Homo sapiens: one gene and its partner. The protein of the gene in region 1 interacts with the protein of each later gene in a biochemical or structural test. Each region holds a gene or a part of one and is shown in the gene's direction. Other genes may lie near its edges.

The links. Proteins that work in one complex are often made in the same cells at the same time.
Region 2: the proteins of INPP5A (region 1) and PLEK form a complex in vitro, tested with the Homo sapiens proteins (one study listed by IntAct).

Annotation. Positions count from the first base shown.
Region 1 is NC_000010.11:132,645,328-132,653,518, forward strand, and holds part of INPP5A (inositol polyphosphate-5-phosphatase A), read left to right. Parts: intron 1-540; coding exon 541-641; intron 642-5,090; coding exon 5,091-5,178; intron 5,179-8,191. UniProt on the Homo sapiens protein: Phosphatase that specifically hydrolyzes the 5-phosphate of inositol 1,4,5-trisphosphate to inositol 1,4-bisphosphate, and inositol 1,3,4,5-tetrasphosphate to inositol 1,3,4-trisphosphate. Plays a crucial role in the survival of cerebellar Purkinje cells.
Region 2 is NC_000002.12:68,381,715-68,389,617, forward strand, and holds part of PLEK (pleckstrin), read left to right. Parts: intron 1-827; coding exon 828-919; intron 920-4,787; coding exon 4,788-4,972; intron 4,973-6,672; coding exon 6,673-6,777; intron 6,778-7,903. UniProt on the Homo sapiens protein: Major protein kinase C substrate of platelets.

The DNA of each region.
Region 1 (8,191 bases):
GCTGTGAGCAGGCGGCGGAGTGCCTGGCTCCTACACACGTGAACACACATGCATACACAGGCACATGTGTACACACACATGCTCCGGCACACGCGTGCTGGTACGTGCTCCCGCACACGTATGCACACGTGTGCACCCTTGCTGGGGTTGTGCCTGGGTGTTGCTAATGGCTGCCTTCCTGGTGAGATTGTGACCAGTTGATCTTGAGGCTCCCAGAGGCTCTGCAGTAAACACGCATAACATTTTTTTAACTAGAAATAAGGCCTCTAGATGATTGAAGAGGCTTCTGAGAAATCTGGACTCTTTTCTATGGAATTTACAGTAATGGGAAAATGAAAAGCACTGGAAATATAAATAACTGGAAGCACAAAGGCGACGTGACTCCTAGAATCTGTCCAGAACCCATGGTCGCAGACATGGGGCCCCGTCTCTGCCAGACCCTGGTGGCTCCCAGGCTGTGGGGGCGGTGGAGGGGGTGGTGCCACGTGTGGCTCTGTGGACGGCTCCGACGACCCTGACAGTGTGCTTCTCTCCCTCCAGGTCGTGCACACACACAAGCCGCACTTCATGGCCTTGCACTGTCAGGAGTTTGGAGGGAAGAACTACGAGGCCTCCATGTCCCACGTGGACAAGTTCGTCAAGTAAGTCTAGGGGCAGGTGCTGGTGCATGTCCACTTCCCAGGGGTGTGGGGTGCCGGCGGGGGTCTTTTCATGGTACTATGATCACCAGCCTCACCATTCGGGACTCACCTGGGGGTCATCTTGGCTGAGTCTCAGTTTTCCAAAGAGAGGAGTGGCCCAGACGTGTGGCCACGAGCCTCCTTGGGGCGGCGACAGAAGGCCACGGAGTGACAGCCTGCTGCCTCCACACGGCGAGGGTCTGTGCTCTCGGGCCAGGGGACGTGAGCCCCAGATACCAGTGGAGCCGTCTCCGTGTGTGTGTGTCTGAGGCCTGGGCCTGTGGTGGCCGGGGTTCACATCCCACTGCGCAGTCTGTCTCAAGGAGGTCGGCAGGGAGCGTCTATCCTCCTTGGGGGCGAAATCTCCATCGTTTAGGAGGAAGGTGCCCCACGTGTATTCCCACTGTACATGCCCTGAGGCTTCTGACAGGGCCGGCCCAACTGGGTCCTGCCTGGGAAGAGGGGGCGCCCGGACCTGGGGCATCCAGGAGTGGACAGGAGCAGGCAGGGGCAGGCAGGCTTGTGTTCAGACATGGGGCCTCCTATAGGCTGTTGCTAATAGTGGCTGCTGTATTTTCCCGAGGCCGCAGCCGTGAAGCCCGCCCTCTGTGTCCCCTACAGTGTGGCCTTGGCACATTCCCATGTTGGGGGCTCGTCTCCACCTCCAGACCCTGGGCAAGCCCTGGCTTCTTCACAGCATGAGGGCTTCTGGGACCAGCCCCCAACATCGCAGAGCTTCACAAAGCTGCCACACTCTGTGGGCCGACGCCGCTGCCACGCTCTGTGGGCCGACGCCGCTGCCACACACTGTGGGCCGACGCTGCTGCCACGCTCTGTGGGTTGACGCTGCTGCCATGCTCTGTGGGTCGATGCAGCCACCCGGAGTCGGGACCTGTGGGCAGAGCCGTCGAGCCCTCCCGGCCTGGTGCCAGTGTGAGTGTGAGCGAGGCTTCAGGCGATCCCAGCCGCTGCATCCTTGCTGTGACATAAGCCCTCCGTGTTGAACTCCCAGCGCAGGGTCCTCGAGCAGAGCAAAGTGGTTTCAGCTGCTAAAAAAAACTGCCACAACTTCCCAAAATAATCTGTAATTTAAGGCATTTTTTTTTTCTTTTTTTTTTTTTGTTTTGAGACGGAGTCTCGCTCTGTTGCCCAGGCTGGAGTGCAGTGGCGTGATCTGAGCTCACTGCAAGCACCGCCTCCTGGATTCATGCCATTCTTCTGCCTCAGCCTCCCGAGTAGCTGGGACTACAGGTGCCCACCACCACACCCAGCTAATTTTTTTGTGTTTTTTTAGTAGAGATGGGGTGTCACCATGTTAGCCAGGATGGCCTCAATCTCCTGACCTTGTGATCTGCCTGCCTTGGCTTCCCAAAGTGCTGGGATTACAGGCATGAACCACCATGCCTGGCCAGTTTAAGGCAGTTTTAATCAAAATCTTAGCGGCATTTTTCCTAACACTCAACAAACTAATACTAAAATTGCCATATAAGAGCAAAGGGTCAAGAATAGTTAAAAGAATCCTGAAGGAAAACAAAGTGGGTTCTCACCCAGCTCGACCCCAAGGCTCATTCCGAAGAAGCAGTGGGGCAGGTGGCATGACGCAGGCCCGGAGAGGAGAGCGGATCGAGGCAGGTGCGCAGCCCAGAGAGTGGAGAGCGGAGTCGAGGCCCCACCCAGACCCTCGCGGCTGCCTTGGAGGAGGGTGGGTGGGGACATGGGCTGGGGCACGGCATCATTGGTGTCCTGTTGGGAAAAATGAAATTGGATCCCTGCTTTGTGTCATAAGCAGCCACTTCTCACTCACCCTACATAAGATGAATTTCAGTTGTATTAATTATATAAATGTAAAAGGCAACATTAAAAATTTCAGTCTAAAATATAGGAGAAAATATAGTTTTGGGATGAGAGATTTCTTTTAAAATGTGCAGGAAGTGCAGCCTACAGAATGGAAGGCTGAAAAATGTGGCCATGTTTGAACTAAGCATTTGCTTATGAAAAGGCACTCAAAATGAAGTCACTCAAAATGAAGTCACTCAAAACAAAATCAAAATTCAGCCACTTCGGGAAAAGATATCTGCAGCACACCTTACTGACAAAAACGAGTGTTTAAATATATGAAGAACTCAGTAAGTCGGTAAGAGAAGGAAAGCAGCCCCTGTTGGGAAGCACCTTCCAGAGGAGAGAAAGTGGGGGTGCACCCTGAGCACGGAGGACGCCGCCCTCACAGCAGGCGGGGACACCGCAGGCCGGACGGGAACGATGCCGCCGTGTTTGGTGTGAGAGCTTCACAGTGGAGTGTGGCCCCCACGGCCTTGTGCCCCCGCGATGCCGTGTGTGTTTCCTTCCTCCGCGCTTTATGCCTAATGTACAGCGTTATGATTTTTGCTTTAAACAATTTTCTTTTTAAAAGATTAAGACGTGAGAGAAACGCCCTTGGTGTGGACCAGTTCACTGGCTTTCAGTGCCCTCCGCCCTTTTGTGTGGATTCTGCTTTTTATCTGGCACCCTTCTCTCTCTGCCTGAAGAACGTTCTTTAACATTTATTTTAGCACAAGTCAGCTGCTCATGAATTTTCTCAGCTTTTGTTTATCTGAAAAAGGTCTTTGTCCTCATTTTTGAAAGCTGTTTTTGTTGTAAATAGAATTCTAGCTTGTCAATTTTTTTTCCTCTCACTACTTTAATGATATCGCCCCATTGTCTTCTGTATTGCATTGTTGCTGGCGAGAATCTCGCCATTGTTCTCTCTTAATTTTCTTGTATATAATGTGCCCTTTCCTCCACTGCTAGGTTTTGTCTTTATAGCTGGTTTGCAGCAACCTGATTATGTTGTACTTTGCTTTGATGTTCTTTATGTTTATCTTGCTTGGGGCCGTTTGAGCATTTGCAGTCTGTGGGTTTATCGTTTTAATCAAATTTGGGGAAAATTTGTCCTTGTCCATTATTTCTTTAAATACTATTTTTCTTTTCCTTCCCTTCTCTTTTGTTCTTAGGCTCCAGTTACCTGATGTTAGATTGCCTGGTTCTGCCCCACAGGGCCCTAAAGCTCTTCTGATTGTTTTCAGCTCATTTTCCCTGTGTTTCGGTTTGGATCGCCTCTGTTGCTGTATTTTTAAGTGGCTGGGCTCTTTTCTGTTGCAGATTTTGATCTTCTCTTAGGTCCATGCAGTCAGTTCGTTTTATTTCTGACATTGTGTTTGTCCACTCCTTCCAGAAGCCTCACGTGTGCTTTCCCTGTCCTCGCTTTTCCTTCCGTCTGTGCGTTCCTTTCGCTGTCTGGTCACAGTTGCAATGACTGTTCCCAGTTGCTTTCAGCTCACTCCGTCATTTTTGCCTCTTCCGGGTCTGTTTCTGTTGACGGCTTCTTCGTAGGATGACGGGACACATTCACGTGGTGTTGCTGCTTCTCATATCAAGTTATTTTCCGTAGGATGGCAGACATTGCGAATGTTACGTTGTTTAGTGTTTGAGCCCTGTTTTCTTCCTTTAAAGCGTGTTGAAGGTTGTGTTTACCAACAGTTAAGCCACATGGGGATCAGTGTGGGTCTGTCAAGGCATTCTTTGCCTTGCCCTTCTCTACTGGTGCAGTTTTATTTTCTTCAATGTGGACCCCCCTTCTTCCTGACACATGGACTGGCTGGATCACAGGGTGCTGGTCTCCTCTCTCCCCACTGGCTTGAATAAGCATGCGTGGGTAGGGGGATGATGGACTGTCTCTGTGGAGGGGCCAGGCAGACGGGGCCTCGTCCTCCGTTCATGGGCTCCAGGGGTGTGCGGTGGCCTCCTGTGCAGCCATGCTTTGCGGAGATGGTGGTGAGCTTGTCTCCTTAAGGCCTTCCTGATGATAAAATGTGACCAGTAGGATGAACGGTCGGGGACAATGGCGTGTCCAGAGGTCCTTTCCCTCCTGTGTGGTTGCAAGGCCGTGGCAACTCAACCACCATTCTCGCTGCCACTTCTGGGAGGAGCAGATGGGGACAGAACTACCTGGGCCCTGGGGTGCATGTGCCCCAACCTGTGTGTGCTGGTGGCTACTGGGGGTCCAATTTCTCTCTTAAGACCAAGCGTGAGCTATCAGGAGAGCCCCCAGAGCTTGGAGTTGCGCTTCCCTGGCATGAGACCTTGGGTGAGTTCTCAATGTCTCCATCCCTGGGATGCCTCAGACCCCGGCATCTCACAGGCTGCGTGGAGACCAGAGCCTGTGGGAGCTTGAGCTCTGCACATGCTGAGAGCTGAACGTGAGGCCAGCTCCTGCGGTGGCTGCCGCCATTCCCTGCCCTCTGCCTGTCACGGGTGGATGGTCTCACGGTGATGTACCTATGTGCTGGAGCCCCTCTTATACCTTGTGGTCATCTCATGAGGTGCAAGGCGTCTGTGTGGCTTTTCCTCAGGAACCTACTTTCTTCCTTCCAGAGAACTATTGTCGAGTGATGCGATGAAAGAATATAACAGGGCTCGAGTCTACCTGGATGAAAACTACAAATCCCAGGAGCACTTCACGGTGAGTCCCTCCCGCTGCCTGGTGCAGGGGTCAGACAGGCTGGCCTTGGCAGAAGCCAGCCCTTCTCCTGTGTAAATGGAGAGAGGTCGGGGTGCTCCCTGCCTGAAGCCTCACTCACGCTGCCCTGCCTGGCACTCCCGCAGCCTGCTTGGTGGTCTGCTCGTGGTCTGAGCCCATGGCTGGCCTGGCAGGGAAGGTGGCCCAGCACGCACAGGGTCTTGGGGCTCCAGACCAAGCCCAAGAGGGAATTGGGGAGTGACAGGTGGGGAGAGGCCCAGGGCCTCAGCGTGCATGAAAATAAGAGGGAGTCCGGGGCTCCAGGCGTGTAGATGAGAGGTTGGACAGCAGCCGGTATTGCTTCAAGAGCCACCGTCGCCAGCCCTGCTCCCATGCTGGGTCCGTCCCTTCCTGATCCCTGAGTGTGCAGGGCTGGGGCGGTGTCCTGCCTCGGAGAGAGGCTGTTCCTCAGGGTGAGCACAGGGGGAGTGGGACAGAGCCTTCCACAGGGCTGGGAAAGACCTGTCCCTCCTCTGCGGTCCTCTGTCAGGTGGACACATGAGAGGGTGGCCCTGGTGGACGTGGCAGCCACAGAGATACAGGCACCAGGTGTCTGGGAAGGGGCAGGAAGCTCCTCAGAGGAGGGGACACTCTGCAGGTCGTGAATAACTTGCTGTTGGTTCAGAGACCCACGTCTTAAATCCCGTCTTTATGCCCTGGGTCCCCCGGCCTGGATCCATCTCCCCCGTCTCTGGGGAGGCCCTGGGTCCCCCGGCCTGGGTCCATCTCCCCCGTCTCTGGGGAGGCCCTGGGTCCCCCGGCCTGGATCCATCTCCCCCGTCTCTGGGGAGGCCCTGGGTCCCCCGGCCTGGGTCCATCTCCCCCGTCTCTGGGGAGGCCCTGGGTCCCCCGGCCTGGGTCCATCTCCCCCGTCTCTGGGGAGGCCCTGGGTCCCCCGGCTTGGGTCCATCTCCCCCATCTCTGGGGAGGCCCTGGGTCCCCCGGCCTGGTTCCATCTCCCCCGTCTCTGGAGAGGCCCTGCATCCTTCTCCCCCATCTCTGGCCTTCTGTCCCCAGCATCAGCGCCCACTAGCCGTCATTGCGCCGTCACGTGACAGGCCCTTGTTAATCTGCCCTCTCCCAGGTGGGCCCCCGTAGGCTGCAGTGCTGAGGGTCTCGCTCTCCAGTGCCCCCCTGCCCTGCAGGTGGGACTCTCATTGCTGTTTGGGTTCAAGGGCCATCTCACTTGTTTGGGCATCCAGTGCCAGTTGATCAATGTCCTTGTCCCTGAGATGGTCACACAGCTGTCATGCGTGGTCCCCACCAGTAGTGGAGTCTGTACAATCCCGGGAATCCCCCGTTCGGTCTCCGACCCTCGCCCTGTCAAGCAGCTGCCCACACACAAGCGGCCTCTCCTCACGCTCTGTGGGGCACACGGGGACCACGGGGCCCCCACTCACACCAGAGCCAAGGCCCTCACCCCTGTGCTCAGGATGTAGCTCCTCCTGTCAGCCTTCCTCCCTCTCCCCCTTGGTCCCTCCTCCCTCTCCCCCTTGGTCCCTCCTCCCTACCAGCTTCTTTCTCTCAGCTCTGCCATCCTTTCCATAAAATGGCAGCTTCCTTGACCCTCTCACTCTCCTCTGCCATGACCCAACGTAATGTGTTTCCCAAGTAGGGGCTTATTCAGATGAAAAAGAAAAACACCACTGGGGGAGCAGCAAATTAGACATTGCAGAAGAAAAGAGAAGGTGACTGAACTTGAAGACAGCCACAAAATTAAAGTGAAACAGAGAGAAGGACTGAAAAGTGGATAGAAATCACTGTGAAATACCAGGTGTCCTAACACGTGTGGCTGCAGCCCCAGGAGGAGCGGGGAAAGGAGGCAGACAGGGTGATGCTTACAGATGTCATGGCTCAGATTTCTTCATCAGTCCATGAAACTTACAGAAAGATCCAAATACTGCAACAAGCTTCAAGCCGAATAAACATACCAACGCAGGCCAAGGTCCGATTGCTGAAAGCAAGTTACATGAAGGCCCTTCCTTGCCACCCATCATCCTCGGAAGAGTGGGGCTCTGCTCCCCGTCTCTGCGTGCTGCCCTGCCATGGGAGCCTCATCTGTGCCAGTCGCCAGCTACCTCTTCCTCATGGGGACCATCGCTCAGCTCTTTCCAGCTTCCTTTAGATATAAAGACACAGGTATTTTAAAAGTGAAGGGACGGAGGAGGATGTACCTTGTAAAACAGTCGTTAGAAGAAAGTAGGAGTGGCTGTCTGCATGTCAGGGTGCCCTCAGAACGAGCGTGTTGTCGGGGCTGAGAGCGGTCATTTCACGATGATAAGGGGTCAGCTTTTTGGGAGGACATAGCGGTCGTGAACGTGCGCCCCTAATATCAGAGCTCACTTAGACGCGAAACCGACAGGGCTGGGTGGAGACGGGAGGCTCTGCACCGCAGGAGGACCCCACAGTCCCCTCCTGCTGGCCGATGTGCAGGTGGGCGGAGGGGCAGTGCCCGCCACCCGCACCCTTGGCATCTGAGGCTCTCCAGCCAGAGCAGTGGTGGACGCAGCCACCGACAGAAGGCACCCGCGTGCTGGGCCCTGGCCAGAGCAGGCCTCTCCGTCTGTCCGAGCCTGGCTGGGATACCTGAGAGCGAGGCACACATGGGCTGGCGGAGGGGCAGCCGTCATGCTGTAGTTCTGTTTCCACCAAAACGTTTTTCCACATGAGGGCGAAAGCCTCAGCAAAACCTCCTTCAGGCTCCCGAGGGCCGCGGCTGCCTCCACACCTGGCTACCTTCTTCAGGCCCCCGAGGGCTGCGGCTGCCTCCACACCTGGCTTTCAGGGTTTTCCAGGTGGGTCCGGAGCGGCCTGTGCTTAAGGGCTCAGGTCCACCCGAGACTCTGCCTGGCGTGCGTATCTGGGCATCTGCACCTGGCTGCCGGGCACAGGCCGTGCCAGGCCTGTACGAGCTCTGGGGTTGTTCTCCCTTCTTTCCAGGGTTCCTCCCTGGCCC
Region 2 (7,903 bases), on another chromosome or scaffold:
CGACACAAGACTTGGCATGGCACAGGAGTTTGACAAAGTTTGTGAACTGAGCTGAGTGAGACTCAGCAGCCTCCTTCACCACAAAAGCTTTTTGGCAAAGAGCTCCAACGAGGCACCTAGTGCAGCTGCAGCTGCTGATGGGGGCCATCGAGTGACCACAGTCCTGGCCAGTGCTGTCAGAACTAAGTGGGAAAAATGCTCGGGCTATAGGGAGCCACAGGCTACATGGAAGGGGCCTTCTGTTTTGTTGCTTAGAGCTTCTCTCGTAAGGCTATCTTTGATGTATTACTTCAAGGACAAAAATGAGAACTTCTCACCATTTTGCCTTATATCTCATCATTTTAAAGATAAGACATATGCTTAGTGGAAGCATTCACTTTCTTAAAGGCCAATGTCTACCACAGATGGTCCCTTGAAGAGCATTAAAGAATTGGGATATGAGGATTGAGGGACATTAAAGATGTAGAATGTGTAGAAAATGGACCCTAGGAACCTTTCATCTTTGACCTCTAAATTGGGGCAAATTTCCATCCCAGGAACCAATAATTAAATCAACAAACAGCTGAATGAATTTAAGAGAATTTAGGAGACGTTAAGTACCTTCCAGCATTGCTAAACGCTGTGCAGGCTACAGAGTTATGCAGATATGAATGTTGCCCCTCCACTACTTATGATCTGATGGAGGGAGATTAAGCTCAGGGGATACCTGGGGTGGGGGAGCTTGTGCTCACCTCCCAGAGAGAACTTACCATTCTGAAATGTTCCCCACTCATCCAACTGGGTTTTTTTTTGTTTGTTTGTTTGTTTGCTTTTTTATCTCTGTGCAGTGCCTTATATTTGTCCATGAAAGACACTGAAAAAGGAATAAAAGAACTGAATCTAGAGAAGGACAAGAAGATTTTTAATCACTGCTTCACAGGTAAAAGCACTTGCAGGCCTGAAATAGGGCGACTGGGAAGGCGATATGGAGTCCTCCTTCGGCCTCGTCTGTGAGGTGGGGGTATGAAGTATGGGGGTTGGAAGGGGTCCCAGAATGCAGCCTGGTGAGCCTGAGGATGAAGCTCCTACAGAGTGAAAATAGAAAGAAGTTTGTTGTTCAAGCTAACGATTTTGTTCAAGCTTTATTTGTTCAAGTTAACATTTGTTCAAGCTAACGTTCCAATCAAAGGATTTTTTTTCTCAATAAATGGCATTATGTTGAGACTTGCTAGAAATAGACACAGAATTGGATAAGATGCAACCCTTACTACAATAAACAGGGATTAAGGCATACAATGTAAGTTTTAAATGACAATATTAGGGCTATCAGAGGCTGCACAGGGTCAGGTATTAAGTGTTATGAGTTTAGGTAGTATGGTGTAGTGGTTAAAAACATGTCCTTTAGAGCCAGACCACCTTGGTTCAAATTCTGGCTCTGCAACTTACTAGTTATAAAACCTTGGCTCAATAACTTAGCCTCTCTGTGCTTCACTTTCTCTGTCTATTTAGTGGGGATAATCACAGTGCACCTACCTCATAGGCTTGCCATTATGTGTGTAGAGTAGTGCCTGGCACACACTCAGTGCTATATGGTGCAAGCTCAAGTGGTTATTGTGTTTTAAGTGGTCACATGTCTGTACAACCAATTCCAGGGGTTCAAAAAAAGAGAAAGAACTCAGGGGTTGATGGGATGAATAGGAGGTGGTACCCAAATTTGACCCTGAAAGATGGGTAGAATTTCATTAAATATTTACAGGAGGATTTTTAATGAGGAGCCAGGGCAGAGGATGAGCAGAGGATGGGCCAGGGCAGAGGATGAGCAGAGGATGGGCCAGGGCAGAGGATGAGCAGAGGATGGGCAAAGGATGGTGAGGACAAAGTTATGAGGCAGACATGTGCAGAATATGCATCTAGAAAAAGAAACTGACCAGCCTAGTAGGGCTGACGGTTCATCAGGGGGAGCAAAATGGGATGTACAATTTGGTACTAAGTTTGTCAGATACCAGGCCTGGCTTTCTTATGGTGACAGGAGAGATCAAAGGAAGAAAACTCTGAGCTGATACAGCAAATGTGGAATCTAAGAGGATGTGCCATCAACAGATAATCCATGAAATTGGTCCAGGTCAGGATCAGCAAGGCTAAGGGGAAAAGGCTTTGATCACTGACGATGAGATAGTCCCCCGTGGGAATAAGCCTCAGAGTCAAGGCAGCAGCCCAGCATCAGACAAGGCAGGGCTGAGATTTGGGATCAAGACACCAAGCTGTGGGTGGTGGTATGAGAAAGTGACAAGAACAAGGGAAGTTCCCAACTCTATCAGGACCGAGGTCACTGCAACAGCCTTGGGCAAAGGGAACAGGAGGGCATTTCAATGTAGACTTGGGCACCCAATCCAGGTCAGACTGATTTCCACTGTAATGTGTTACTGAGTCCCAGACTATTGGGCTGGTTTTTTTCTTCTTGTTCTCCTTCTCCTTCTCCTTCTCCTTCTCCTTCTCCTTCTCCTTCTCCTCCTTCTTCCTCTTGTTCTTATTCTTCTTTTCTCCTTTTTCCTCTTCCTCTTCTTTTTATTTGAGACGGAGTTTCACTTTTGTTGTTCAGGCTCACTGCAACCTCTGCCGCCCGGGTTCAAGCGTGATTCTCGTGCCTCAGCCTCCTGAGGAGCTGGGATTACAGATGTGCACCACCATGCCTGGCTAATTTTTGTATTTTTAGTAGATTCGGGGTTTCACCATGTTGGCCAGACTGGTCTCAAACTTCCAACCTCAGGTGATCTGCCTGCCTTGGCCTCTCAAAGTGGCCTGTAATCCCTAAGATTACAGGTGGGCTAGTACTTCTTAAATCCTTCTTGTTGAAGGCCAGGGTGGGTTTTGGACATTTCTATGGGTAGAGCCTTCATGGGGGAGTCAGGTGGCCTCGGCTGGGAGATGAAGGCTGTAGCAGAGACTGGGACCCAGCAGTACTGACACATGATGGAAGACCTTAAATGTCCGATGACAGGCAGACTAGACCAAACTTGTCTTTCAAGCTTCAGCATGCCTCACTGAGTGAGCGTGGATGCAAGGGTTAGAACACTTAAAAGTGACAGCCCAGAGCAGTTGTAACTTTGGCCTAAGATCACTCAGATTCCCTGAGCCTTAATTTTCTTATCCTTAAAATGAGGACTGCAATTACCACCCTGCCTCTTTCACAGGCTGCTATGAAGATAAAAAGAAGAAATGCAGTGTCACTTAGTTTATCTTTGTAGAGAAAGAAAAGTGAGCAAAAGCCTTTCATACATGAAATTCATGGAAGGCTCGCTATCCAACTGCTGTCACTCCTGTTTTGAGGGTGGCATCCCTACTGCTTTTGCCCGGATGACAGGACAGGCAGGCTGTCATGTTGACTCCCTTGTTGGCTACATTTGTAAGGAACACACTGCTTTTTATTTTTATCTTTTTTAATTGACACATAATAGTACGTATTTATGGGGCACAATTAATGTTCTGATACACATATACATTGTGCAGTGATCAAATCGTGGTAACTAGTGTATCCATCACCTCAAATATCTATCTTTTTTTGTTGTAAGAACAAACATGCTGTTTTTAATACAAAGCTTCATTGTAACCTGCTAATAATCCAATGTATGGGTCAATTTCATTTTCTTCTCTTTGCAATCATCTCTTGACCAGAAGATTGCTTAAATGACTTCTCAAGGTCCCTGCTAGACTCTGCAAAGTCATGACAATCAGTGCAGGTGATGTCATCAAATTTTAATTTAGGACATATATCCATCACATTATTTCCTATTTAAAAACTTAAAATGATTTCCCATTAGCCAAATTTCTTACTGTGCCATCAAAGCTCTCCCCACCCACCCTTCACCTCCCTCCTCCTCTTATTTCCTTTTGCCTTCTTTCCACCAACTCCTCCCCTGCCCCATGGGGCTGCTTTATGCCTGAGTGCATCTGTTCACACTGCTGCCCCCTCAGCTTGTGCTGGTTCCTCTGCATCCTGCTTCATATGCTTGGCAAACGCCTACTCATATTTTAAGCCTCTGCCCAGTGTCACTTCCTCTATGAATCTTTTCCTGATGGTGATGCACAGCCCTCTTCTCTCACCTCCTTCACCTCTTTCACACCTTCAGATTTGACCCAGTAGTCTCGCAACTGACTTATAGCAGAGCACTTGTTACAAGACTTATTTATTACACCCATCATGCCCTTTTACACTCCTTGAGGGAATTTCTCCAACACCCAGTAGAGTACCTAGCATCGAGTAGGTGCTCAGTAAATGTTTGTTCATCAATGGGATAAGTGAGTGGGTTAGTAAAACCTATTTCTTTGATGCATGTGTTGCTTTTTTTTAAGACAAAGACTTTATTTTTTTATTTTTAAAGTTATTATTTTTTTATTTTATTTTTGTTTTTATTTATTTATTTTTTATTATACTTTAAGTTTTAGGGTACATATTTTTTGAGATGGAGTCTTGTTATGTTGCCTGGGCTGGTCTTGAACTCCTGGGCTCAACTATCCTACTGCCTCAGCTTCCAGAGTAGCTGGGACAACAGGTGTGCCACCATACCTGGTCATGTGTTTCTTCTTAAGCAGCATGTAGATGTTCTTAAAAACCCTTTACATAGTTTTTTGTTTGTTTGTTTGTTTCTAGTGGGTATCTATCCCACTTATTTTGTTTTCTCTTTCTTGAAATAACAGGGGAGACGAGACAAGTCAGACCTGTGGGTGAGCTGGAGTCAGTTCAGGGGTGATTGTCAGGGGCTTGTTCTTCGGTAAGGAGAGTTAACCTTCCCTGTGCTGGTCCCATCTAGGTAACTGCGTCATTGATTGGCTGGTATCCAACCAGTCTGTTAGGAATCGCCAGGAAGGCCTCATGATTGCTTCATCGCTGCTCAATGAGGGGTATCTGCAGCCTGCTGGAGACATGTCCAAGAGTGCAGTGGATGGAACTGCTGAAAACCCTTTCCTGGACAACCCTGATGCCTTCTACTACTTTGTAAGAAAAGCTCCCCATCTCTTCTTCCTGTAAGGGAGGCTGCCCTGAGCAGATTCTAGATTGATTTCAGTTCATAGACATCTATAGAGCGCTGTTAGGCAGCGGGTAGGGAGGTCAGCCAGGAAGAACAAGGGAATACCTGAAGCTCCCAGGCCCATTTAGAGCTTCTGTTATACCAGCATTTCCCAACTCAACAGCTGCCCTCTCTACAACACTCGCCCTGTCCAAGTGAATTTGTTATTATAAAAGGATACTACTGTTTACTTGAAAAAAAATTTTTAAAGGACATTTTAAAGTTTATTGTTTCCTATTTACTTATTATTATTTTTTATTTATTTAGATGTAGTCTTGCTCTGTCACCCAGGCTGGAGTGCAGTGGTGTCATCTCGGCTCACTGCAACCTCCGCCTCCCGGGTTCAAGCGATTTTCCTGTCTCAGCTTCCCGAGTAGCTAGGATTACAGGCATGCGCCACCACACTCAGCTAATTTTCGTATTTTTAGTAAAGACAGCGTTTCACCATGTTGGCCAGGCTGGTCTCGAACTCCTGACCTCAAGTGATCCACCTGCCTCTGCCTCCCAACTATCTATTCTTATTCTAAGCAATAATTCATTTATAAAACTGTCTTAGACCCTAGTCCATGGCAAGCATTCTCTAAGACAAGAAGATACAGCCACGTAGACAAGCGTACTGGAGGGACAGGCAAAAATCCTGCCCTACTGCAGCTTCCTTTCCAGACAGGAGTCTATAAATCACAGGTTTGATGTATTAAGTGCATTATTCCAAATGTATGTTAAAACACATGACTCTTAATACAAAATGTGTCCACAGATGTCACTTCCTGCAGTCATCTTGTGTACCTCCCACAGTATGCTTACCCACGATTGGGAAACACTATATTATACAATGTGAACCTGTTCTTAGGCCATGTGAGCAATGGTGGATTTCTTGGGGGATTTTGGCAGTTTTGTTTCTATCTTGGATCAGAGCACAGAATTTAGGAAGTTACCTAAGAGAACCATTCTTCTTATAAACATGAAGTGAACACCCTAGAGGGTTTCATTTCACTTTAGGGGAAGTTCCACAGTCTGTTTTTTTTTTTTCTTCAGTCCTTTGATCTGGTCGTTTATAGCCATTTCAATGCAGGATTCTAAAAATACCCATCACAGTGGCTCCTCTTCCTCGGTCTGATTCATCATCTACTTTTGCTGAGCAAGTCCCACTTCCCTCATAACCTCAGGGGAAGAGGCTGGACACATGCTGTCACTTTTCTCCAAGAGGGGGCTCAGTGGCAAATGTTGAGCTGGTGATAGTATTGCCAATGAGAAATTAGCCTGCCCTGCTTTCAAGGATGTGACCATGATATCCCAAGAGAAGGAAGGCTTTGAAGGCAGACATGTGCCTGGTTAGGAAGATGGAGCTAAAGTTAGGATACAGCTTGGGAGACCCTCCAGAATAAAAGGATATTGACAAGATCACACCTGAGTGGAGACAAGAAAGGAACAGCCCCGGAAGCAAGTAAAAGGAGGAGGAGAAACTCGCTCATCAAGGACCTTTGAAGTTCAGATTGGGATGTACACAGGAATGGAGGAAAAAGGAGGAGGCTGCCCTCATGGCTGGAGGGGAGGGGGAATGGAGATGGCACAAGTTGCAATGTGCCTAAGACTGGTGATGTTAGCTTGCTGTTTGATTTTCCAACAGCCAGACAGTGGGTTCTTCTGTGAAGAGAATTCCAGTGATGATGATGTGATTCTGAAAGAAGAATTCAGAGGGGTCATTATCAAGCAGGGATGTTTACTGAAGCAGGTGAGTGGCCACAACTGCTCCCATCTAGCCTTTTCCCTTTACAAGGTCCTTTTTGTTTCTAAGTTACCCAGTGACTTTTGGTTTGTTTGGTTAATAGTCAAGCAGAAAATGAAACCCACAAAGTGAAAGATAGATGAGTAGCTCTTTAGATATCAAAGTGGCTTTAGATCAGGAAGATTGAGTTTGACAGGGCAGAAGATGTCCCTAAAAGTAGGAAAATGCCTCTTTTATCAATATCATAGGAAAAAAAAAGGTGTTTCAAGAAAAATATGGCCGGAGGAGATAAATTGTCTAAGAGATGCCATCCAAAAGACAAAGCTGTCTCATGGTAAAAGTACTTCCATTTTACCTGTCCCTCCTCCCTTCAAAGCAACCAGGAAAACAGGAACAGGCTACACCCAGAAGAGGAACAGAGTACACCACTGAGAGCAAAGAAGAGTCATTCCAGTCTGTGCTTAGGGCATGACAAGACCAAAACCTGGGCATGCAGAGGCCAGTTCACAGGAACAGCAGGCAAAAGTCAAATGCAGATTGAGGGCATGGACAGAGTCCTGGGGGGATGTCCAGGTGTCCACAGGTACAGGCCACCATCAGTCTTGGAGGCAAGGGCTGGAGAGTGCTGAGGAGCTCTAGTCGGTTACCAGGTGCCAAGGCATATGATGCCAAGAGGTAAGAGATGGACAGGGGCCAAGATGACTGAGGAAGCCAGGACCAGTACCTGGTGGAGGAAGTCGCAGGAAGACATGAGAATATTCAGGGGGAAGCTAGTTGATACTTGCACAAGGCATCTTAGAGGCCAAGGCTGCTTTGCAGGACCAAGGTCTTGCCTTCCTGGCTGCACTGTGAGCTGCCTTAAAAGTGCTGCTCAGTATATAATGGAGAGAATCTGTTGCCATCAGGAGATTTCCATGTACTGTCTATAGGCTCCACGGGACTGGGGGATCTGATTTATTTCATGTTAGGACCCTGAATGTCCATCTTAGTGATTAATGGAATGGGCAAGGAGGGAAGAACCAGAGAAGAGCCCATATTTACATTTATAAAGAGGGACTCTGGGCTGGGATAGCTGAAAGGAGGTATAGGTATGGATTTTGAGTTTCACAGGGGGAAGTGGGACATTCGAATG